2 separate regions of the Homo sapiens genome follow, and region 2 is linked to region 1. Evidence: fine-mapped expression QTL. A gene starts in region 1. The other region holds a variant in brackets. All regions are shown on one strand. Distances are between the middles of the regions.

The links. PIP is the estimated chance that this variant, and not a neighbour inherited with it, causes the effect. A credible set is the group of variants that fine-mapping cannot tell apart.
Region 2: its variant is the best candidate, but not a certain one, in a credible set for the expression of SHTN1 in fibroblasts (GTEx, PIP 0.61).

What each region holds. Positions count from the first base shown.
Region 1 is chr10:116,997,971-117,010,906 of GRCh38, forward strand. SHTN1 (shootin 1) reads right to left here and starts at 7,217. Exons shown (of 17, transcript NM_001127211.3): 1 at 7,052-7,217. The coding sequence starts at 7,109. RefSeq lists an enhancer at 6,300-6,993 and silencers at 6,808-7,102, 6,974-7,083, 7,314-7,393.
Region 2 is chr10:116,931,177-116,944,112 of GRCh38, forward strand. It overlaps SHTN1 (shootin 1), which reads right to left. Exons shown (of 17, transcript NM_001127211.3): 9 at 9,290-9,436. Among named protein-coding and RNA genes, the nearest start is that of SHTN1, 68 kb to the right of the region's middle. The variant A/T (reference allele first, on the strand shown) is at 5,579.

The sequences.
Region 1 (12,936 bases):
AGTCCCAGCTACTCGGGAGGCAGAGGCAGGAGAATGGTGTGAACCTGGGAGGCGGAGCTTGCAGTGAGCAGAGCTCATGCCTCGGCACTTCAGCCTGGGGGACAGAGCGAGACTCTGTCTCAAAAAAAAAGAATCAGGGAGTTAAGATACACCGCTTTGAGGGGGAACATCTACATAAATTATTTGGAATTGCTCTGCATGGGAGATTTGTCTTTAATCATTTATTTATATCAGTATCAACTCATGAATATTACTTCAAATTTTGAATTATAATCCAATATTCTGTTGTTCAGAGTTCCGTCTTTGGACATTGGATGTTCTTTCCATCGGCTCTTGTGTCTCTGACAGACAGTAGTTTCCCTCTTATCTACCGTTTCACTCTTCAGGGTTTCAGTTACCCATGGTCAACATGGTATGAAAATAGATGACTACAGTACCACAAGATATTTTGAGAGAGAGAGAGAGAGACCACATTCACATAACTCTTATTACAGTATATTGTTATAATTGTTCTATTTTATTATGAGTTTTTATTATCTCTTATTGTGCCTAACTTATAAATTAAACTTTATCACAGATACGTATGCACAGGAAAAAACTTGGAATATATAGGGTTTGTTATTATCCATGATTTCAGGCACCTACTGCAGGTGTTGAAACATAGCTTCCTCCATGGGTAAGCAGGGACTACAGTATCTCCATCAATGTCAGCTTATCAGTTGGTGCATTTCCTTAGTTTCCACACTACAAGATGCCCTAGGCTCATCTTGTATATTTCCTGCCCCTTTCCTAAAATTAGCCATTTCTCCTAGGAACCCTGTTCGTTTTATTCGAGAATGGCATTAGAAGCCAAGTTCTGGGCTCTAGATGTGCTCATTGATACTGGTGCATCTAGGCTCTCTCAGCTGACAGAGCAAGAAAATATATGTATATACCAACATATATATATATGTGTAACCATCCATACCTGTATTAAGCTAAACATGAGTTCACACTGATGTCTCCAACATGAATCCAGTGCCAAAAGCATTTTCTTTTTAGAGAGATGGGGTCTCACTACATTGCCCAGGCTGGTATCAAACTCCTGGGCTCAAGGTATCCTCCTACCTTGGCCTCCCAAAGTGCTGGGATTATACGCGTGAGCCAACACAACCAGCCCAGAAGCATTATTTGTAATAGCAAAAACAAGGAAAGAAAGATAGAAATGTCCATCCAGAGGACATTAAATACATTGTGGTACGTCTGTACATTGGAACATTAATCAATTTTTAATGACAACGCTACATGTACTAATATAAAAAATTACATATTACATGATAAATACATATGCACATACAAACACAATTTCTGGAAGGAAAGAAAACAAAAGGTTAACAGTAGTTAACTTTGGGAAATGGGAATGGGGTCATAGCATGCATTGTCAATGTAGTGATTTCATCCTCAAGGAGATAAGAGAAAAGATCTTGGATATTACAATGGCTTATGGCCCTTCAAAGAGTCACAGTGCATAAAACGCCTAAAAAGTTTCCTTAGGAGAGTGATAATGAAATAAAGATTGAGAAACAATGGGTCAGATAGAATAGTTAATTGTACTTTTCACTTTACACACTTGTTTTCTATGAGCATGTGTTTATTTTTGCATTTATTTTAAAAAAGGTTCACAGCTGGGTGCGGTGGCTCACGCCTGTAATCCCAGCACTTTGGGAGGCCTAGGCGGGTGGATCACAAGGTCAGGAGTTCGAGACCAGCCTGACCAACATAGTGAAACCCCATCTCTACTAAAAATACAAAAATTAGCCGGGTGTGGTGGCACATGCCTGTAGTCCCAGCTACTTGGGAGGCTGAGGCGGAAGAATTGCTTGAACCTGGGAGGCGGAGGTTGCAGTGAGCCGAGACCACGCCATTGCACTCCAGCCTGGGTGACAGAGTGAGACTCTGTCTCAAATAAATAAATACATAAATAAATAAATAATATTAAGGAAATAGTGAAATTCTGACTAGAAGACATAGTTCCTTAGCCCACACTGCATGTTCATCTCATGGGGGGTTGCCAAACTGTTGTTCTTCAGCAACCACTCCCTAACTTTCAGAGGAAAATGCATTGTTGATAAGTACCTGGTGATTCAGATGCAGCTGGCCCTTGTACCACACTTTGAAAAATACTGATGTAAAACCAAGTTTGCACTTGAAAACAAGGCAACATTTAATTCCAAACAGCTTTCTACTGGCTGATCTCATATGCACCCAAGATTGTCAATGCTTCCGTTTTCCCAGACTGACGTGGTCATTGTGGTAGGCAATAGTTTCAGACTGTTTTGTCAAAATAATGCTCCAGTTATTTCCTGGCCTAGAAGCCAATGGAATACTGGATGCATCTTTTAATTACTAACTTGCTCTAAGAATAAGCTTGACTAGATTTCCATGTGAACTTAAGTATCATCTCAATAATCTTGGGGAAAACGATACTAACTCTAAAGGTGAAAAGAGGTTTAAAATTGCTTTAAAACCAATTACCTCACCATAGGAAATCCATTTTAAATACTGTTAGCCCAAAAATTGCCCATTATTGGGGTGGTGGTGGTTGTTTTCCTCTTATGTATGTCCTTATTATTAAATAGCCATCTCTCTTCAAAATTTCATCAACTTGGAAATGACATGGCATTACTACACTGAACAGTTTAGCAGACATGTGTTGTCTGTGTCTGCCCGGTCAGCATCCTCATGGTAGTGCACCCCATTCTGTTTTGGACTATTCCTCCAATCTTTGCAGGGGCTGCCAATTAAAGTATCCTGCCCTCCCGTGGCCAAAGTATTTGAATACATGAGATTGGCCAAACTAGGCCAATCAGACACTCCTCCTGGAATTTACATGCCTAGCACTATCTCTAGACCAGGAACTCCTCACCAGCAGAGGCAAGGTCTTATTCAGCTCTATCTCTCTGATGCCTAGCACAGTGCCTGGCTATGAATATTCAATGCATGTGGGCTGAATGAATTATACAGAAAATCATGCACCTTAAACAAATGCTGAACTAAGTCTATCATTTTCCCACTGAATTCCGGAGGGGGAGCAAATTGTATGATGTTTTGTAAGGGAAATATCCACTTTAGTAGCTAGGAAATATGCCTCGGAAATAGTATCCAAAGTTGCCATTTCTCGGTGCATTAAAGATGTCAATCAGTCCAATAAAATAAAGCCCCAAAAAAGACAAAAGGAGAATTACCTCATTACCTCAACATCTGCTTGAACATAAGCAATCACACACTGGCTAATTTTTTTTAAAGGGACATAATATAACTTTCTGGAAAGACATAATATAGCTAATTATACCATTCACTAGGAGGGAACATAAAATGTTTTGAAGTAATTCAGAAGTGGGTGTGATTTATAAGACATAGAGCTTAGGGAATGGTAAGTATAAATTAGAGATTGTTCATATTATGACAGACTCCGTCATTACATTTCACAACTTTTGTCAAAAGCAACCTTATTCACCACACCACTAAAGGCTTCACGTTAGGGAAGGCTGCTGTCAGCTTTGTGGTTTAGAGTAGACAGGAATCTCCTTTCTGAACACTCTCCTGGGGAACTGGTTCAAGTTTTAGACTTAAAACTTACTAAGGCAGGGCAAAATGAAGAGAGATTGTTTAATGGGTTCAAACATAGTTAGATACAAGGAGTAAGTTTTAACATTTTGATAGCAAAGTAGGGTGACTACAGTTAACAACAATGTATTATATATTTCAAAAGAGATAGAAGAGAGGACTTGAAATGTTCTCAACTCATTGAAATGATAAATACTGGAGGTAATGGATATCCCAAATACCCTGACTTGATCATTATGCATTCTAAGCATGTAACAAAATACCCCATGTCTTCTATAAATATGTACAAGTCTCATGTATCAGTTTAAAAAAAAATCACTAAGGAAGGACCCATATGATGAAACCTAAATGGCCAATGGCCATGTAAAAAGATTTCAAACATCACTAATAACCAGAGCAATGCAAATCTTAAAAGGTAACATTCTGCCCATTAGATTGGCAAAAATTCAAAAACTTGTCAGGCCATCAAATGAATAAAGATTGCTATTAGCCAGAGTTGACCAATGTGTGGGGAAATGGGTACTGCTGAAGGATATCTGAACTGGTATAATCATTTTGGAGGGCACTTTTGCAATGTCTAGCAAAAGTAAATGTCCGTGCCCTCTAATCCAACAATTCCATTTCTTCTAAGAATCTATCCTAGAATAAAAAAGTAATTGTACATTTATTCATATGATAACTTGAATAGTACCTGTCTTCTCTTCTAGAAAATTAATTTGGTGACAAGGACTGTGTAGTTCACTATTTACACCCCTAGTGCCTACCACATGGACCTGACATATGGTGGTACTTGATAAGTATTTGTTGAAGGAATGAATAAATATGTTTACTCAGCATTATTAAGGGAAAATAACATATTTGATAAATAGTGGTTCTTCTTGCTCACACTAAATAGGGGTAGTGGAATTATCACTCAGAATATTAACATTGTGAGTAAAAAGGTAGTAACAGGTAGTAAAAATTACTATTTTCAAAAATAAACCATGCAACCATCAGCTTACAAAATTGATCATAGTATGTACTGTTAAATGCTCAAAGACCCAGTTACCTGTTCTTCCAAATCCCTAGCTTCCCAATTAGTTCTACAGGTCAAACAGTAACTGAACACTTTTGAAGTAAATTGTTTCCACAGTCTGTGATCCAATGACAAGCAAACTACCTGGTTTTGAAATGTATAAAAATCACACTGTGGGCTGAAAAAATCCCAACACCTTTGTAACTAGACTCACTATCCCCAAAAGTGTACCTTTTAAGAAACACAACTTTGAATATCTAACTGTTCTATTACCTTTCATATGCACTTAATCAAGGAAATATATCCTCTAAAAATACCAATGCCAAGGATTTGTTTATTTTCCAATACAATGCAATAGGAGAAAGAGCCACAAATATAGAAATCCTTTTTGTCAGGCCTCAAACCCAACATAGGAATGGAGAATGTGTTCCGAAATCAAATATAAGCAATTTGCAGATTATCTACATTGTTAATCGACCCTTGATTATACAAGAAATGAAAGGGAAAATTTTTTTATGTTTATCATTATTCGAAAACTGACCAACCATAAGAAGATCTGATATCCACTGACAGATATTACCTATAATGAAAGCTCCACAAATCTAGAATATGAATCAAGTTTTAATGTTTTGGGTTGGGCGAAGGTGTATTAAATATAAAATACCAGTCAGTAGAATCCAGTCCCTCGCTAAAACACTTGAGAAACTTCAGATAAAGGCATTCTGTCCACCCACTAAATTCACTGATGCTTGTGACTTTATGACCTCAGGCTAATCTAGGATGCCAGGTAAAGGTGCTGGGAAGGCCAAAGAGACTAACATTTATCCAGCACTTTCTAGATGCTGGATATCACAGAAGAATGTGTTATGTCCATTTCAGAGGTTAAATAATTTCCCCAGGGTCACACAGTAAACAGTAATGTTGAAATTTGTTTGCCAGAGTGTGGCTTCAGAGGAATCCGGGAGCACTTCCCAACGGTGTCTGTGGTTTTACGCAACAACAGGTAAGAGTACTGGACAGGACCTCAGAAAGTCCTCCAGTTTCACCCTCGCCTTTAGTCAGGTCGGCCTTGATTGACCAGAAGATCCACGGAAGGAAAGAGACTCCTCCAAGTTCACAGAGCAGGTGAGCTGGGCCAAGAGAAGTGAAAGAGCTGCAACTAAATACCAGGTTTTGCCACAGAGCAGGGATCCTTCCATTACATGGTCTTGTCAGCAAGACATTCAGAAAAGTACATGTTCCTACACATTTTTACTTCCTTTAAATCTGTATGGTTCCTCCCTTTATTTCTTTATTATTTATTATTATTATTTTTTTTTGGAGATGGAGTTTCGTTCTTGTTGCCCAGGCTGGAGTGCAACGGCGCCATCTTGGCTCACCGCAACCTCCGCCTCCTGGCGATTCTCCTGCCTCAGCCTCCCGGGTAGCTGGGATTACAGGCATGCACCACCACGCCCGGCTAATTTTGTATTTTTAGTAGAGATAGGGGTTCTCCATGTTGGTTAGGCTGGTCTCGAACTCCTGACCTTAGGTGATCCACCTGCCTCGGCCTCCCAAATTGCTGAGATTACAGGCGTGAGCCACCGCACCCGGCTGGTTCCTCCCTGTCTTGACCCACATTCGCAGACCACCCTTTGGTCAGGGTAATAATGATAAGTGTTTAAATGTGATAGGTTAGCATTTGGTTGTTGATCTGGTTTGGTTCAGAAGTGTGGTAACTGATGAAAAAAATGATTGACTGAAGCAGGTCTTTATTAAAGGATAATCCCCAGTTACCAAGCAGTACAGAAATGCGTGCGCATGGCCTGGCTCTCCTTCGCCCAGCGTCAACCCTGTTAATTCTGAAAGCTCAACACTGGCAGGATGTTGACCTTGCTGACTAATAAACTGCTAAAATTGAGAAGTGATTAAAAAAAAAATTATGGCCTGAAAATCCCAGCTGGGCAAGGAAAGAGGAACTAGACCGAATCCAAACGAAAAGCTGGGAAGGGTGTGAAACAGCCCTACAGGCCACCCAGCGCCAACAAATGTGTAAGGGTGGGGCCAAGCTAGCTGAGCCGCCCAAAGCAGCCAAAATATCCTGCCCCACCCGCTTCTCCGGCAAGGAAGGTGGCACTGTGCAACCTCGTCCGCACTGAATCCTCGTCCCTTCCCCCAGCCCCCGATCGCCAGCAAACGCAACCAGCGGGCAGCGGGTCTCGAGCTGCGGGGCCTGACTAGCCCCGACACTCCGCGTTATCCTCGGTCCAGAGCTTTCCCAGGCGCGCCGGCCACGGAGGACGCTTCTCTGCGGGTGACGGAGCTACTGCGGTGACCACGGCGGCCGCCACGTCTCCCGCCCGGCTTCCAACTGCCCTGGCCCCAGCGCCCTGGGGCCGTCCCCGCCCACGGGCCGCGGCTGCCCACACCTGGCGCCCGCGTGCTGCCTACCTTGCTCCTTCAGACTGGTAATGAGCTGCAGCTGCTTCTCTTCGTCCGAGCTGTTCATTTTGGCGGGTGGGGCCGGGAATAAAAGGGAAAGAGGGAGCGGCGCGGGGCACACAGGAGGAGGGGGAAGAAAAAGCAAGATGCCGGTGGCTTGCGGCTCCACTACCCGGAAGTTGGATCCGCTCCCGCTCCTCCTCCTCCTGGCGCGGAGCGCGCGAGTGAGATCATCCCCACGCACCTACTCGGCGGCTGCGGCCGCTTCACCTGCAGGCGGGGCGGGGCGGGCCCAGCAGTCCCGTTCAGGGGGTGGAGGAACGAGGGCGGGTCGGCAGCCGCTATGCCAGCCTGTGGCTGCCGGCGCGGCAGGACGCGCTGGTGGGAGGGGGGGCGGCCCTGCGTGGGGTCGCTCCGCACCCTTTTCTCCGCCTCCACCTCCCGGACTCAGGGACGCGAGTTCAGAGAAAACCGGCTGTGGGTTCGCAGCGTGTGTGGGAACTCCACTTTGGACGCTTCCCGGGGGTCGCTCCCAAAGAACCACAGAGGTAGAGCGGGACGCAATGAGCCATGAACGCCTGGGCTTCTTCCCTAGTTTTCCCGCAGTAGACTCTGGGGGCGCGGTTGCAAAACCTAGCTGCCCACAGGGGCGGGCCCAGGGTGGTACATTTTGCACCTTGAAGAGGAGACAAGGATCGAATCAGGCCGCCCAGCTACTTAAATGACCATGCCGTGAGTGAAGGAGGGCCCTGGCTAGCTTTCCCCCATCGCACCAGGTTTGCCAGGTGGTCAGAACGTGGACCCTGCTGCACGTGGATGGTGGGGCCTGGAGGGCCCTTGCAGATCATCTGGTTGGTGGCGGGATGACCTTCCCTTTAGAGAGGGTGCCACTGCAGTCCGAATGCCGAAGGTCACGCAGCCCCCGGGCAGCAGAGGCTGGCAGTTAAGCCAAGCGTTTGTCCCAGTTCACTGCCCTCTGAACTATTTGAACTCATGTCTGTGTTAGACCATGCCCAGGAGAGAAGTGGCAGGTCTGCATTGTTTCAAAGGTGCTTCTCCCCAACCCCTAGTTGCGAGCTAACCTTTGGTCAAGTCTCCTGCATCTTTGAACTTCATCTGAAGAATAGGAAGAATAGTGATACCTACTCTCAAGGAAGAGTTGTAAGGATTTAATAGAGGAAGATTAACAAAACACCAAGTCCAGAATTTATAATGCAGTTTTTTTTTGTTTTTTTTTTGTTTTTTTGTTTTTAATAAAGATTACAGGTCTGTGGCCGGGCACAGTGGCTCACGCCTGTAATCCCAGCACTTTGGGAGGCCAAGGCGGGCAGATCACGAGGTCAGGAGATCGAGACCATCCTGGCTAACACGGTGAAACCCCGTCTCTACTAAAAATACAAAAAATTAGCCGGGCGTGGTGGCAGGCGCCTGTAGTCCCACCTACTCGGGAAGCTGAGGCAGGAGAATGGCGTGAACCCGGGAGGCGGAGCTTGCAGTGAGCCGAGATCGCGCCACTGCACTCCAGCCTGGGTGACAGAGTGAGACTCCGTCTCAAAAAAAAAAAAAAAAAAAAATTACAGGTCTGTGAGAAAGGGGTTGTGGTTGCTGACTATAAGCTGAAGGTTGCAGTTCTTTTACACTGATCATTAAGCATGGGAGATAAGTCCAAACTGAATTAGACTTATTGCACAGCTTGGTTTTTCTCACTACCTCTAAGCTCTTAGTTTGGGTACAGCAACAGCACAGTGCTGCTCATTCCTCAATTGCTGTTTTATGGAAGTGCCCAGCTCCATTTCTTGTGTTCATTTCTCCATGATAGTTGTAGAGTGAGGTTGAGATATGGGTAAATCCTGTAACTAGTGTCTTTCTGATACTCACTACATGCTAACTAAAATTTTGAAAAAAAAAATGGTAGCACTGCTTTCTCTTTCTCTAAAATGGCAATATAGTACTTTAGCATGAGTGATTTAGGGGTAGAATGATCTAAAAGGGCAGCATAGTATTTTTTAATACAGTGTATTAAAATGTTTAAAGTTTAAAAATAATTTTGATATGGGATTGTATTATTCAGCCCTTTCCCTAGGTATGCGTAAGATAATTCAAGATAGTTGCAGATAGCTGCCATGAAGATCCCCAGGAGATAATAATAAAAAAATCCGGGAGATTTTAATGAAAAATAATGGACATTTAGCTTTTGTCCAGCAGTTGGGAAACCTGTTAAACCTGATGAGTCATCCTGACTCATTCTCTCTCACTCTACCAAATACAAGCAGAGTGCCCATTAAATATTTGGCTTAGTTCACAAAGTTCCATTTTTTTTTAATGGCTGATTTGTCTACTCCAATTATACAGTAGTTAGATAGTATTTCTGGAGTTTAAGAATGAGTTAATTATCAAATCTATAATCAAACTTTTGGTTCCATACTAAATCTGCGGCCTCTTGCAATTAATCCCATTTATCCTCCTTAAAATTAGAAAAGGCTCCTGAGCTGAGATTCTGCCACTGCACTGCAGCCTGGGTGACAGAGTGAGACTCCATCTCAAAAAAAAAAAAAAAAAAAAAAAAAACTCCTGAAATACAATATGGCATTCACTTGAGGACATGGTATGAATTATTAGGAGGGCTATTAGAGTCCTTATTGGGATTCAGTTCTCCCATTACACTATTGTTTATTTATATGATATGAATATTGATGGAAAGGATAGAAGTGATAAATTAGTTTTTGTTCCGTTTAATAATATACAGAGTGATGGCTATGGGAGGCCGAGGCGGGCAGATCACGAGGTCAGGAGATTGAGACCATCCTGGCTAACACGGTGAAACCCTGTCTCTACTAAAAATAAAAAAAGCTGGGTGTGGTGGCGGGCACCTGTAGTCCCAGCTACTCGGGAGGCTGAGGCAGGAGAATCACTTGAACCCGAGAGGCGAAGGTTGCAGTGAGCCGAGATCATGCCACTGCACTCCAGCCTGGGTGACAGAGCGAGACTCCATCTCAATAATAATAATATACATAGTGATTTATGTTGCAGGCATCACGTTGGAGTTACTATTGACCTCCAAATAACAGGTCATTTAAAACCCTTAAAAATGTGTGTGTTTACATATATATATACAAATATATACATAGAGATAAAGGACAGACTTTTAAAAAATGAATTGGAAGAATATGTGCCAAACTCAGGATAATGGCTGTCTCTAGGGATAGAAAGTAGGGGAACAGGACCAAGGTGTGGGGGTTGGAGTGTGAAAGTGCAGTGGTCAAGAAGGAGTTTCTCTTTAATCTTTATTTAATTTTTCAGGTAATTAAAGTAAAATCACATATGTCATCTTTTGAGGTATACAGATAAATAAGATTGAAATACAATGAGGAGAAGAAGGTTCACTGTCTTTGATCCACTAATTCTATATCAGGGAATCTATCCTAAAAGGCTTATGTACAGAGCTATTTAATGTAATGTTAATTATCATATGAAAATGGCAATATTGGAATATTATTTGGTAATAAAAATAAAGTACTGATATATGGTACAACACAGATGAAATTTGAAAACATTATACTCAGTGAAAACTTGATCAGAAAAGACCAGATATTGTATGATTGCACTTGTATAAAATGATCACAACAGGCAAATCCATAGAGGGAGAAAGTTGATTGGTGAGTATCTACTGAGGTGGGGTGAAAGTAGGGGAGGTCTGGGAGAAAACAGGGAATGGCTGCTGATAGGTGTGTGGTTAATTGTTGGGGTAATACAAATTTTCTAAAATTAATTGTGGTAATGGTTGTACAATTCTCTGAATATACTCAAAACTATAGAATTGGCCGGGCGCTGTGGCTCACGCCTGTAATCCCAGTACTCTGGGAGGCCAGGGCGGGTGGATCACCGGAGGTCAGGAGTTTGAGACCAGCCTGACCAATATGAAGAAACCCAATCTCTATTAAAAATATAAAAAATAAGCTGGGCGTGGTGGCACATGCCTGTAATCCCAGCTACTCAGGAGGCTGAGGCAGGAGAATCACTTGAACTCAGGAGGAGGAGGTTGCAATGAGCCGAGATCGTGCCATTGCACTCCAGCCTGGGCAACAAGAGCAAAATTCTGTCTCAAAAAAAAGAAAAGAAAAGAAAATATCAACCAAATATGCACAAAAGGAAAGGAGAAAGAAGTCAAAATGATTACCAAAAACATACACATTTTTTTAAAAACTAAGTATAAAATAAGGCAATAATGAAGCAAATGAAGAGCAAAAGAGCTATAAGACATATAGATAATACATAGCAAAATTGCAGAAATAAGTCATTTCTTATTAACTGTAACTTTAAATGAAGATGGCTTAAACTCTCCAAAAGGCAAACACTGGCAGGATGCAAAAAAAAGTATGATCTAACTATATGATGTCTACAAAATATTTATTTTAGATCCAAAGACAACAATAGATTTAAAGCAAAATGGTAGGAAAAAATTTAATTAGTAACCAAAAGAGAGTTGGGGTGGTTATATTAATATCAGACAAAACAGACTTTAAGTCAAAAACTGTTACAATAAACAAAAGTCTATATTCACAAAAGGGTTGATTCGGTAAGAATATATAATTACTATAAACATATATACAAGCTGGGCACGGTGGCTCAAGCCCGTAATCCCAGCACTTTGGGAGGCCGAGACGGGCAGATCACGAGGTCAGGAGATTGAGACCATCCTGGCTAACACTGTGAAACCCCGTCTCTACTAAAAATACAAAAAATTAGCCGGGCGTGGTGGCGGGCGCCTGTAGTCCCAGCTACTGGGAGGCTGAGGCAGGAGAATGGCATGAACCCGGAAGGCGGAGCTTGCAATGAGCCGAGATCGCGCCACTGCACTCCAGCCTGGGCGACAGAGTGAGACTGTCTCAAAAAAAAGGAAAAGAAAAAAAAAACTTATGGAATACCGTGAAGACAGTGCTCAGAGAGAAATTTATAGTTCTAATTACTACATTATAAAAGAAAGATACAAAATCAATAAGGTAACTGTACACCTTGAGAAAATAGACAAGCAAAATAAACCTAAAGTTAGCAGAAGGAATAAAATAATGAAGATTAGAGTGGAGATAAAATAAAAGACAATAGAAAAATAATAGAATTAATAAAAAGCTATTTCTTTGAAAGTATCAAAATTGACAATCCTTTCCCTAAATTAACGAAGAAAAAAAAGAAATATGAAAATCAGATATTAAAATGGGGACAGTAATACCAATGATTCAGAAATAAAAAGGATTCTAAGAGAATAATAAGAACAATTATATGTCAACAAATTAAATAACCTAGAAGAAATGGACAAATTCCCAGAAACACACAAGTCACCTAAACTAACTGAAAAAGAAAATTTCAGCAGAACTATTATAAGTAGAGTAATTCAGAAAGTATTAAAAAAAGAAAAGAAAAGAAAAGAAAGACACCCTTCAATGAAAATAAGTTCAGGCCCAGATGTCTTTCCTGGTGAATTCTATCAAACATTTAAAGAATTAACACCAGTCTTTCTCAAACTTTTCTAAAACACAAAAAAGGAGAGAACACTTCCTAACTCATTCTATGAGGCCAGCATTTCTGTGATACCAAAGCCAGATAAGGATATCACAAAGAAAAGAAATGTACACACCAATTTCTCTTATGAATATGGTTGCAAAAATCCTCAACAAAATACTAACAAACCAAATCCAACAACACATTAAAAGGATTATACACCACGACCAGGTAGTACTTATTCCAGGAATGCAAAAGTGGTTCAACATAAGAAAATCAATCAATGTAATATGTCACATTAATAGGAAAAAAACCAGGTGATCATCTCAATTGAGACAGAAAAGGCATTTGACAAAAGTCAGCATCGTTTCACCATAAAAACTCTTAGCAAACCAGTA
Region 2 (12,936 bases), 67 kb before region 1:
ATTTTTAGAAATTATTTTTTAAAATACTCTGAAATATATTCACTGAAGTGGTTTTTTGTTTTGTTTCGTTTTTGTTTTTGTTTTTGTTCTGAGATAGAGTCTCACTCTTTCGGCCAGGCTGGAGTGCAGTGGCGCGATCTGGGCTCACTGCAAACTTCGCCTCCTGGGTTCAAACAATTCTTGTGCTTCAGCCTCCTGAGTAGCTGGGGCTACAGGCACATGTCACCACACCCGGCTAATTTTTGTATTTTTAGTAGAGACAGGGTTTCACCACATTGGCCAGGCTGGTTTCGAACTCCTGGCCTTAAGTGATCCACCTGCTTTGGCCTCCCAAGGTGCTGAGATTACAGGCGTGAGCCACCACACCTGGCCTGAAGTATTCTTTACAACAGCAAAAAGTTGCAAATAACCTAAATGTCCACCAATATTTTTAGTTTAATAAATTATAGCATGTTTATTCAATGAAATACTATGCAACTTTTAAATCACATAGCTTACTATATACTGACATGAGAAGATATATTACCAATGGAAAAAAAATCAAGGCATAAAATAGTATGCATAGTATGATTCAATTTAAACAAACTATATTTATAAAGGTATATATTTACAGAAAGTTCAGCTATGCACCAAAATATGGGATACTTGGTTAATCTTCTTTAACTTTTGCTGTATTTTAAAAATGTATTATAAGGAGCATATGCTATTTTTATAATTGCAAAAACCATATGCTGTGCTTAAAAGACTGCTGCATCTGCAAGGGAACTTACAGACAGCTAAGAAACATTTTAAGCGACATACAGATGGTCCCCAATTTAGGATGGTTTGAGATAGTTTTTCGACTTTACAATGGTGTGAAAGCGACATGCATTCAATACAAACCATACTTCAAATTCTGGATTTTGATCTTTTCCCAGGCTCGCAATATGTAATAAGATACTCTCTCAACAATCCTCTGCAGCGGCAGCCAGCCACAGCTCCCAATCAGTCACATGATCATGCGAGTAAATAACTGATACTCTAGAGCAGGGTTCCCCAACCCCCAGGTCTTGGACTGGTACTGGTCCATGGCCTGTTAGGAACCAGGCTGCACAGAAGGTTAGCAGCAGGCACGAGCAAGCATTACCGCCTGAGCTCCACCTCGTCAGATCAGCAGCGGCAACAGACTGTCACAGAACCGCGAACCCTATTGTGAACTGCACACGCGAGGGATCCAGGTTGGCCGCTCTTTATGATAATCTAATGCCTGATGATCTGAGGTGGTACAGTTTCATCCCAAAACCATCCCCCACCCTCTTCCCTCCCCAGTCCATGGAAAAATTGTCTTCCACGAAACTGGTCCCTAGTGCCAAAAAGATTGGGGATTGATGCTCTAGAGTATACTGTATTTCCAGTTGACTCTGCCCAATTGTAGGCTAATGTTAAGTGTTCCGAGTATGTTTAAGGTAGGCTAGGCTGAACTATAATATTCAGTAGGTTAGGTATATTATTTTTGATTTACAATATTTTCAACTAACGTGGGTTTATCAGGACATAACCCTATCATAAGTCAAGGATCATCTGTACATGAAAGACTGTAAGAATAACTGTATATACAAAGAGTATAACAGTTTTAGAAGTAGTGATTGTTATAATTTCATTGATAACTTTAATCTTTAGTACCCAACAAGGTATATATACAACAATTTAGTCCTATACCTCAGCTCAATTCAGTAGGTTCTAGGCACGTATTATTTACTAAATGATTTAACTGTAAGTAGCTGGACTTTTCAGAACCAAAAGTTAAATTCTAGCATAAACTGAAACAAAAACACATTCTTCTTTTTCTCTTTTCTTGAAAAGGTAATTCCTACATATGGGGACAAAAGAAAGAATGAAATTCTTTCCCTCCCACCCTATTCTCCAGTTCTCTTTCCCAGGGGACTGTTACCACCTGTCCATCCAGAGGTACTCTACATATATATCAACATTTCCTTTTAAAATTATTTTTATTATTTATTTATTTATTATACTGTAAGTTCTGGGATACATGTGTAGAATGTGCAGGTTTGTTACATAGGTATACATGTGCCATAGTGGTTTGCTGCACCCATCAACCTGTCATCTACATTAGGTGTTTCTCCTAATGCTATCCCTCCCCTTGCCCCCACCCCCCGACAGGCCCTGGTGTGTGATGTTCCCCTCCCTGTGTCCATGTGTTCTCATTGTTCAACTCCCACTTATAAGTGAGTACATGCAGTGTTTGGTTTTCTGTTCCTGTGTTAGTTTGCTGAAAATGATGGTTTCCAGCTTCATCCGTGTCCCTGCAAAGGACACGAACGCATCCTTTTTTATGGCTGTGTAGTATTCCATGGTGTATATGTGCCACATTTTCTTTATCCAGTCTATCATTGATGGGCATTTGGGTTGGTTCCAAGTCTTTTCTATTATGAATAGTGCTGCAATAAACATATGTGTGTGTGTGTCTTTATAGTAGAACAATTTATAATCCTTTGGGTATATACCCAGTAATGGGATTGCTAGGTCAAATGGTATTTCTGGTTCTAGACCCTTGAGGAATCACCACACTGTCTTCCACAATGGTTGAACTAATTTATACACCCACCAACAGTGTAAAAGCATTCCTATTTCTCCACATCTTCTCCAGCATCTGTTGTTTCCTGACTTTTTAATGATCGCCATTCTAACTGGCATGAGATGGTATCTCATTGTGGTTTTGATTTGCATTTCTCTAATGACCAGTGATGATGAGCTTTTTTTCATATGTTTGTTGGCCACATAAATGTCTTCTTTTGAGAAGTGTCTGTTCATATACTTTGCCCACTTTTTGATGAGATTTTTTTTTCTTGTGAATTTGTTTAAGTTCCTTGTAAATTCTGGATATTAGCCCTTTGCCAGAAGGATAGAGTGCAAAAATTTTCTCCCATTCTGTAGATTGCCTGTTCACTCTGATGATAGTTTCTTTTGCTGTGCATAAGTTCTTTAGTTTAATTAGATCCCATTTGTCAATTTTGGCTTTTGTTGCCATTGCTTTTGGTGTTTTAGTCATGAAGTCTTTGCCCATGCCTATGTCCTGAATGGTATTGCCTAGATTTTCTCCTAGGGTTTTTATGGTTTTAGGTCTTACATTAAAGTCTTCAATCCACCTTGAGTTAATTTTTGTATAAGATTTACGTAAGGAAGAGGTCCAGTTTCAGTTTTCTGCATATGGCTAGCCCGTTTTCCCAACACCATTTATTAAATAGGGAATCCTTTCTCCATTGCTTGTTTTTGTCAGGTTTGTCAAAGATCAGATGGTTGTAGATGTGTGGCATTATTTCTGGGGCCTCTGCTATGTTCCTTTGGTCTACGTATCTGTTTTGGTACCAGTACCATGCTGCTTTGGTTACTGTAGCCTCGTAGCATAGTTTGAAGCCAGGCAGTGTGATGACTCCAGCTTTGTTCTCTTTGCTTTGGATTGTCTTGGCAATATGGGCTTTTTTTTCAGTTCCATATGAAATTTAAAGTAGGTTTTTCTAATTCTGTGAAGAAAGTCAATGGTAGCTTGATAGGGATAGCATTGAATCCATAAATTACTCTGGGCAGTACAGCCATTTTCACGATATTGATTCTTCCTATCCATGAGTATGGAATGTTTTTCCATTTGTTAGTGTCCTCTCTTATTTCCTTGAGCAGTGGTTTGTAGTTCTCCGTGAAGAGGTCCTTCACATCCCTTGTAAGTTGTATTCCTAGGTATTTTATTCTCTTTGTAGCAATGGTGAATCAGAGTTCACTCATGATTTGGCTATTTGTCTATTATGGATGTATAGGAAGCTTGTAATTTTTGCACACTGATTTTGTATCCTGAGACTTTGCTGAAGTTGCTTATCAGCTTAAGGAGATTTTGGGCTGAAACGATGGGGTTTTCTAAATATACAATCATGTCATCTGCAAACAGAGACAATTTGACTTCCTCTCTTCCTGTGTGAATACCCTTTATTTCTTTCCCTTGCCTGATTGCCCTGGCAAGAACTTCCAATACTGTGTTGAATAGGCGTGGTGAGAGAGGGCATCCTTGTCATGTGCCAGTTTTCAAAGGAAATGCTTCCAGCTTTTGCTCATTCAGTATGACATTGGCAGTGGGTTTGTCATAAATAGCTCTTATTATTTTGAGATAAGTTCCATCAATATCTAGTTTACTAAGACTTTTTAGCATGAAGGGGTGTTGAATTTTATCGAAGGCCTTTTCTGCATCTATTGAGATAATCATGTGGTTTTTGTCATTGGTTCTGTTTATGTGATGGATTACATTTATTGATTTGTGTATGTTGAACCAGCCTTGCATCCCAGGGATGAAGCTGACTTGATTGTGGTAGATAAGCTTTTGGATGTGCTGCTGGATTCAGTTTGCCAGTATTTTATTGGGGATTTTCACATTGATGTTCATCAGGGGTATTAGCCTGAAATTTTCTTTTTTTGTTGTGTTTCTGCCAGGTTTTGGTATCAGGATGATGCTGGCCTCATAAAATGAGTTAGGGAGGAGTCCCTCTTTTTCTATTGCTTGGAATAGTTTCAGAAGGAATGGTACCAGCTCCTCTTGGTACCTCTGGTAGAAATCAGCTGTGAATCCATCTGATCCTGGGCTTTTTTTTGGTTAGCAGGCTATTAATTACTGCCTCAATTTTGGAACTTGTTATTGGTCTATTCAGGGATTCCACTTCTTCCTGATTTAGTCTTGGGAGGGTGTATGTGTCCAGCAATTTATCCATTTCTTCTAGATTTTCTAGTTTATTTGTGTACAGGTATTTATAGTATTCTCTGATGGTAGTTTGTATTTCTGTGGGATCGGTGGTGATCTCCCCCTTTACATTTTTACTGTGTCTATTTGATTCTTCTCTCTTTTCTTCTTTATTAGTTGGGCTAGCAGTCTACCTATTTTGTTAATCTTTTCAAAAAACCAGCTCCTGGATTTACTGATTTTTTTGAAGGATTTTTTTTGTGTCTCTATCTCCTTCAGTTCTGCTCTGATCTTAGTTATTTCTTGCCTTCTGCTAGCTTTTGAATTTGTTTGCTCTTGCTTCTCTAATTCTTTTAATTGTGATGTTAGGGTGTCGATTTTAGATCTTTCCTGCTTTCTCCTGTGGGCATTTAGTGCTATAAATTTCCCTCTAAACACTGCTTTAGCTGTGTCCCAAAGATTCTGGTATGTTGTATCTCTGTTCTCATTGGTTTCAAAGAACTTATTTATTTCTGCCTTAATTTCGTTATTTACTCAGTAGTCATTAAGAAGCAGGTTGTTCAGTTTCCAGATAGTTATGCAGTTTTGAGTGAGTTTCTTAATCCTGATTTCTAATTTGATTGCACTGTGGTCTGAGAGACTGTTTATGATTTCCATTCTTCTGCATTTGCCAAGGAGTGTTTTACATCCAATTATGTGGTCAATTTTAGAATAAGTACGATGTGGTCCTGAGAAGAATATATATTCTGTTGATTTGGGATGGAGAGGTCTGTAGATGTCTATTAGGTCTGCTTGGTCCAGGGCTGAGTTCAAGTCCTGAATATCCTTGTTCATTTTCTGTCTCGTTGATCTAATATTGAC[A/T]GTGGGGTGTTAAAGTCTCCCACTATTATTGTGTGGGAGTCTTTATCTCTTTATATGTCTCTAAGAACTTGTTTTATGAATCTGAGTGCTCCTGTATTGGGTGCATATATATTTAGGATAGTTAGCTCTTCTTGTTGCATTAATACCTTTACCGTTATGTAATGCCCTTCTTTATCTCTTTTCATCTTTGTTGGTTTTAAGTCTGTTTTATCAGAGAGTAGGATTGCAACCCCTGCTTTTTTTTTGCTTTCCAGTTACTTAGTAAATATGCCTCCATCCCTTTATTTTAAGCCTATGTGTCTTTACACGTGAGATGGGTCTCCTGAATACAGCACACCGATGGGTCTTGACTCTTTATCCAATTTGCCAGTCTGTGTCTTTTAATTGGGGGCATTTATCCCATTTACATTTAAGGTTAATATTGTTATGTGTGAATTTGATCCTGTCATTATGATGCTAGCTGGCTATTTTGCTATTAGGTTATGCAGTCTCTTCATAGTGTCATTAGTCTTTACAATTTGGTATGTTTTTGCAGTAGCTGGTACCAGTCTTTCCTTTCCATGTTTAGTGCTTCCTTCAGGAACTCTTAAAAGGCAGGGCTGGCGGTGACAAAATCTCTCGGCATTTGTCTGTCTGTAAAGGATTTTATTTCTCCTTCGCTTATGAAGCTTAGTTTGGCTGGATATGAAATTCTAGGTTGAAAATTCTTGTCTTTAAGAATGTTGAATATTGGCCCCCACTCTCTTCTGGTTTGTAGGGTTTCTGCAGAGTGATCCACCGTTAGTCTGCTGGGCTTCCCTTTGTGGGTAACCCAACCTTTCTCTCTGGCCGCCCTTAACATTTTTTCCTTCATTTCAACCTTGGTCAATCTGATGATTATGTGTCTTGGGGTTGCTCTTCTCGAGGAGTATCTTTGTGGTGTTTTCTGTGTTTTCTGAATTTGAATGTTGGCCTGTCTTGCTGGGTTGGGGAAGTTCTCCTGGATAATATCCTGAAAAGTGTTTTCCAACTTGGTTCCATTCTCCCTATCACTTTCCAGTACACCAATCAAACGTAGGTTTGGTCTTTTCACATAGTCCCATATTTCTTGGAGGCTTTGTTCATTCCTTTTCAGTCTTTTTTCAGTAATCTTGTCTTCATGCTTTATTTCATTAAGTTTATCTTCAATCTCTGATATCTTGTCTTCTGCTTGATCGATTCGGCTATTGATACTTATGTACGCTTTACCAAGTTCTCCTGCTGTGTTTTTCAGCTCCATCAGGTCATTTATGTTCTTCTCTAAACTGGTTTTTCTAGTTAGCAATTCCTCTAACCTTTTATCAAGGTTCTTGGCTTCCTTGCGTTGGGTTAGAACATGCTCCTTTAACTCGGAGGAGTTTGTTATTACCAACCTTCTGAAGCCTACTTCTGTCAATTTGTCAAACTCATTCTTTGTCCAGTTTTGCTCCCTTGCTGGCGAGGAGTTGTGATCTTTTGGAGGACAAGAGGCATTCTGGTTTTTGGAATTTTCAGCCTTTTTGCACTAGTTTTTCCTCATCTTTGTGGATTTATCTACCTTTGGTCTTTGATGTTGGTAACCTTTGGATGGGGTTTTTGCATGGATGTCCTTTTGTTGATGTTGATGTATTCCTTTCTGTTTGTTAGTTTTCCTTCTAGCAGTCAGGCCCCGCTACTGCAGGTCTGCTGGAGTTTGCTGGAGGTCCACTGCTGACCCTGTTTGCCTGGGCATCATCAGTGGAGGCTGCAAAACAGCAAAGATTTCTGCCTGTTCCTTCCTCTGGAAGCTTCATCCCAGAAGGGCACCTGCCAGATGCCAGCTGGAGCTCTCCTGTATGAGGTGTCTGTAGACCCCTGCTGGGAGGTGTCTCCCAGTCAGGAGGCATGGGAGTCAGGGATCCACCTGAGGAGGCAGTCTGTCCCTTAGCAGAGCTCAAGCGCTGCGCTGGGAAATCTGCTGCTCTCTTCAGAGTCGGCAGGCAGGAACGTTTAAGCCGCTGAAGCTGTGCCCACAGCCGCCTCTTTCCCTAGGTTCTCTGTCCCAGGGAGATGGGAGTTTTATCTACAAGCCCCTGACTGGGGCTGCTGCCTCTCTTTCAGAGATGCTTTGCCCAGAGAGGAGGAATCTAGAGAGGCAGTCTAGCTACAGCAGCTTGGCGGAGCTGCAGTGGGCTCGGCCCAGTCCGAACTTCCTGGTGGCTTTGTTTACACTGTGAGGGGAAAACTGCCTACTCAAGCCTCAGTAATAGCAGACACCCTGCCCCCCACCAAGCTCGAGTGTCCCAGGTTGACCTCAGACTGCTGTGCTGGCAGCGACAATTTCAAGCCAGTGGATCTTGGCTTGCTGGGCTCCGTGGGGGTGGGATCTGCTGGGCTAGACCACTTGGCTCCCTGGCTTCTGCCCCCTTTCCAGGGGAGTGAATGGTTCTGTGTTGTTGGAGTTCCAGGTGCCACTGGAGTATGAAGAAACACTCCTGCAGCTAGTTTGGTGTCTGCCCAAATGGCCACCCAGTTTTGTGCTTGAATCCCAGGGCCCTGGTGGTGTAGGCACCCAAGGCAATCTCCTGGTCTGTGGGTTGCAAAGATGGTGGGAAAAGCGTAGTATCTGGGCTGGAGAGCACCATTCCTCACAGCACAGTCTCTCGTGGCTTCCCTTGGCTAGGAGAGGGAGTTCTCCAATCCCCTGCACTTCCCGGGTGAGGCAACACCCCACCTTGCTTCAGCTCACCCTTCATGGGCTGCACTCACTGTCCAACCAGTTCCAGTGAGATGAGCCGGGTACCCAATGCAGAAATCACCCGCCTTCTGCGTTGATCCCGCTCGGAGCTGCAGACCGGAGCTGTTCGTATTCGGCCATCTTACCAGCCACCATATATCAACATTTCTTATTGAGGCAAAACAAATCAACTCAACCTCACCACCAAGTTTGTAAAAACTTCAGAACTTCCAAGGATTAAATGTCAATACTGTTGCCACAGAGGCTTTGACAGGTGGTAACAAGTAGCAGCTAACAGCCTTTCCTTCCCAAATGAGGTACATTATAAGTAGTATAAACATTGATGTAATTTTTCTTAAGTGGTCTCTTTAATTTGGAAGTCTTTGTTCCACTTCTTTGCTTCTCCTCTCACCTACCACAATGACTATCCTTTCTTCTTGGCACACAGAGGTAGGCTGTGTCAGCTGGAATAGCTCCACTCATCAAATTGAAATAATCACTTAGGAAGTCTTTAAACATACACATTTGTGCAAGTTTACAAAATCAAAAATTTTCTCTAAGCAAACAATTACTACTAATACGGACTGTCATTTTCTTTGAATAAAACCTATGCCCTCCAACAAGTGCTCTGAGTTGAATACAGCCTCTTAGTGTGTGCAGTCTCCAAAAAATATAACATTTCCAAAAATTGAATTTCCAGACTTTGCCTTATCCAAGCTGTTTTTAAGTTATACCTCTTTCCCTTGCTTCTTCCGACCCTTTGGACAGTTTAAAGATTATTATAAAGTCTATAATAGCGTATTACAAATTTCAGTTTCACAACATTAAGTTCATTTAGTTATTTTTTTCTAAAAGGTGGTTGAAAGCACTTAGTAACTAAGGCAAAATATGAAACAGTAAATGACTGGACTGACTGCACTGGCTCCCTTCATCTTAAATATATGTGTGTATGCATGTATGTGTGTGTGTACCTAAGATTCCAGAAGAAAATGGGTTACCTTTTGTTGATGCTGAATTCTCTCTTCTTCAAGTTGCTGGGTGAGTTTTGCATTTTCGTCTAAAGCTTTCAAAAGCTGCTGATCAGGGATGGAGCTCTGCAGCAGAAGGTGGCTTTGTCTCTTTAGCTTGTTTTGCTCAATGAACATCTGCAAAAGTTTGTTACAAGAATGTATATATCAATCAATCTCACATACCTCCTCAACTGTAACTTCAGCAAAAGAAAAGTACATGGAATTTTTATTAAATCATTAAAGGCAAATTCTGACTTCTATAAGTTTTAGAAGTAGTGATTGCTATGATTTCATTCCTTTTATATAATCTTTAATACCTTTACTCCTGCCCCAACAAGATATTTATACAATAAGCTGGTCTTACTCTTCAGTTTTTAATATTTTATTATTGCTTTAAGATACATTAATATTAATAGTAGTAGCTAATATTTCTCAAGAATTTACCTTGTGTACTCCACTAAATATTTTATATGGATTATTTTAATCCTTACATCAATCCTATTAAAGTGCTTCTACTATGAATAGGTAACATTTACTAAACACTATGTGATAGATATGGTGGGAATCATTTTACATTCATTATATCATATAATCCTTAAAACAACACTATCAAGTAGACACTACTATCATCTAATTTTACTAATAAGGTAACTGAGGCTCAAAGAAGTTAAGCAACTTTCCCAAGAACACACGTAAGTGACAAGACCAGGACTTAAACCCATATCTGATTTACATGCCCAAGCTCTTAACCATCTGGCTAAGTTCCTCTACTATTTGCTAGATCTAATGTTTTGTTTTAAACTAATTAGTTTCTCCCTAGTGATAAAAGTAGTTAACAGTAGAAGGGTAAAGGGGAGAAGGGAGACAGTATATTTTATTGAGCACTGTATTAAGCAATTTATATGTTATTCATCAAATCCTCACAACTTTACATGATTGAAAATAATATTGATTTCTATTTACCTGTTATTTCTTTTCCTTAACACTCTACCCAATTTGGCCAGTGAGTGATTCCAAGTATGAAATGTTTTTGTAAACTCTGAAATCTGGCCTACCAATTTTATAATAGAGCTTCACCTTTTCAGATTTTTAACAGCATTTTAAAATTTACATTATAACTTAACTGAAAGCTCTGAACTGCAAAATGATTTGCTAAAGCCCTCATATTAGTTTGTTCAACAACTTCACCCATCATGTAACAGAAAAAGTCAGCAAATAAAACTCAGGACAAAAATATTTTCCATCAACCTCCATGTGGCAAGACCACAGCTTTAATGATTTATACAATCCTTAAGCTCTTGATCAGTATCGACTTCCACATCAAAGTCAAGTCATGAATACAGTATACTAAAACACTAACATTTTCTTCCCAGTATGTCTTCCTATGAAAGGGAAAAAAAGGTCAGAAGCTTTCCTTCTTTGCCTAGGGATTTATGAAAAGCCTACAAAACTACGACAGGGTTCTTCTGCAGAATTAAAACACATTACAAAGTCAAACAGGTAAATAAACAATTGCATATACATGAAACCCACATTCTTCTTCCATTTGTGTGAGAGTGAGAGGTATAGAGACTGCAGTGAGGAAGAGTATGTGCATGTACACTTGGCTGGAGAAGGGTGAGATGCAGCTTCAGCATTCTAAGAAAGAGTAATCAATATTTCATCACAGTATCTTAAACTTCAGACCAGTGATTTAATTAAAATGAATTGTTTTGGGTGACCATTATGATTACAGTAATTTTTTTTTTTTTTTGAGATGGAGTCTCGCTCTGGCACCCAGGCTGGAGTGCAGTGGCACAATCTCGGCTCACTGCAACCTCTGCCTCTCAGGTTCAAGTGATTCTCGTGCCTCAGCCTCCCAAGTAGCTGGGACTACAGGTGCCTGCCACCATGCCTGGCTAATCTGTGTATTTTTAGTAGAGATGGGGTTTCACTATGTTGGCCAGGTTGGTCTTGAACTCCTGGCCTCAATTGATCCCCCCGCCTCGGCCTCCCAAAGTGCTTGGATTACAGACGTGAGCCACCATGCCTGGTCAAAAAATTTAATTATGTTGAAGAAATTTAAAATTTTAATATAGTTATGAAGACAACTGATAGTTTTCTTGTTGAGGGGGATTAAGTTTTTGGTTTTGTTTTTTAAATGAACTAGCGGGAGTTAAGAATGGGGGGTAACTTTCAATTTTTATTTTATACATTTAGAAAATATTTGTATCTTTGTGCAAGGCACACATACTCCTTTTTAATTAAAAATATAAAGTAAATTAACCTTAAAAATTGATTTCTAAGGCTCTAGACTATAAGCTCCAAGAGGGTAGGGCTCACATTTGCTTTCTTCACCACTGGATTCCCAATGTCAGCACAGTGTCTGGCACAGTAAGATGTTTGCTGCATGCCCTAAGTGGTAAGTAAAATGCAAAAGAATGGGACTCTGTTGTTAAACTAAGTTATGTGTCTTTGTGCAGTACTTACCTGTTGAAAACCTGAGAATGCATAAACTTTGTAAAAAGGAAAATATACTAGTTCCAACGTGGTGCTATTTTTTAAAAAAAAGTTTTCTTCTCACTATTGTGTAGATTGAATCTAGATATTGTAAAATTGTTGAGTGCCACTGCAAATATTTATGCTGCCAATAACGTAAGTACCATTGCTCTTGCTTTCTTTCTCTCCTCAAACTTCTACCTTCTCATTCTGGGTTAACATGTCAGCATTATTGTTTCCACCAACCACTAAGACTGAAGACCAGGTGAACAGCAGAGTCAATCATTCATTTTTGTCTTCTTACTGCAACCTTGCTTCTTCCATCTGTCTTCTCTGCTACCACATGGCCTTCAAGTTTTTCTTTGAGCTGCTTTGTATTCTAACATCATTGTGCAAACAACAGATGGAAAACTGAACATGTCTTGAAATGAGACCTGCTATTCAGGTCAAAATCAGCCGACCTTTCCAGTTTTGCAATAAAGGCATCTTCACATTATCCCTGCTTCCCCTCCCCCTCCACTGTTTATTTCACTGCATTATTTATATTGCTCCAACGTTTTCCAGAGAGCTCTGACACACTTCAATTCTTTTTTCTTTCTTCCAAGTAATAAGAGAAAAATATTTACTCACCTTTCATTAAACTCTCTAAATAAAACGAATCATAATATTTCAAATCAGATCTACTTGGCCTAAACCTTCGGTAGAGTTCACTGCTAGCACAGCTATGCTCAAGCACAGAAAGACCCCCACAAAACCATCATTGGATTTTCAAATGTCATTCCCCTAATGCCATGCTTTGTCTTCCTTCTATGCCTTGGATACCTCTACCTAGGACTGTTTTACATTTCCTGAGCTATCTTCCTTCAACCTACAGTATGCACACAAATTCAAACTACACCCACAGGATGGAGATCTCATTGCAGACCAGCTTTTGAGTTTAGCCCATTGGTGAACTCCTCATCCCCCTGGATGAGCCCCAGGGCCATGGAAGACCCAACGACTGCATGTCAACAGGTAAGCCGGAACAAGAGATTCAAAGCTGATCTCTAACATAAGAGGAAGATCAGTAGGCTGGTGAAACGCTGAGATAATGAATGTACTACATGGCAGTGTTCCACAGCCAGTGGAAGAACTTCCTGGCATAATGACAGCACTGC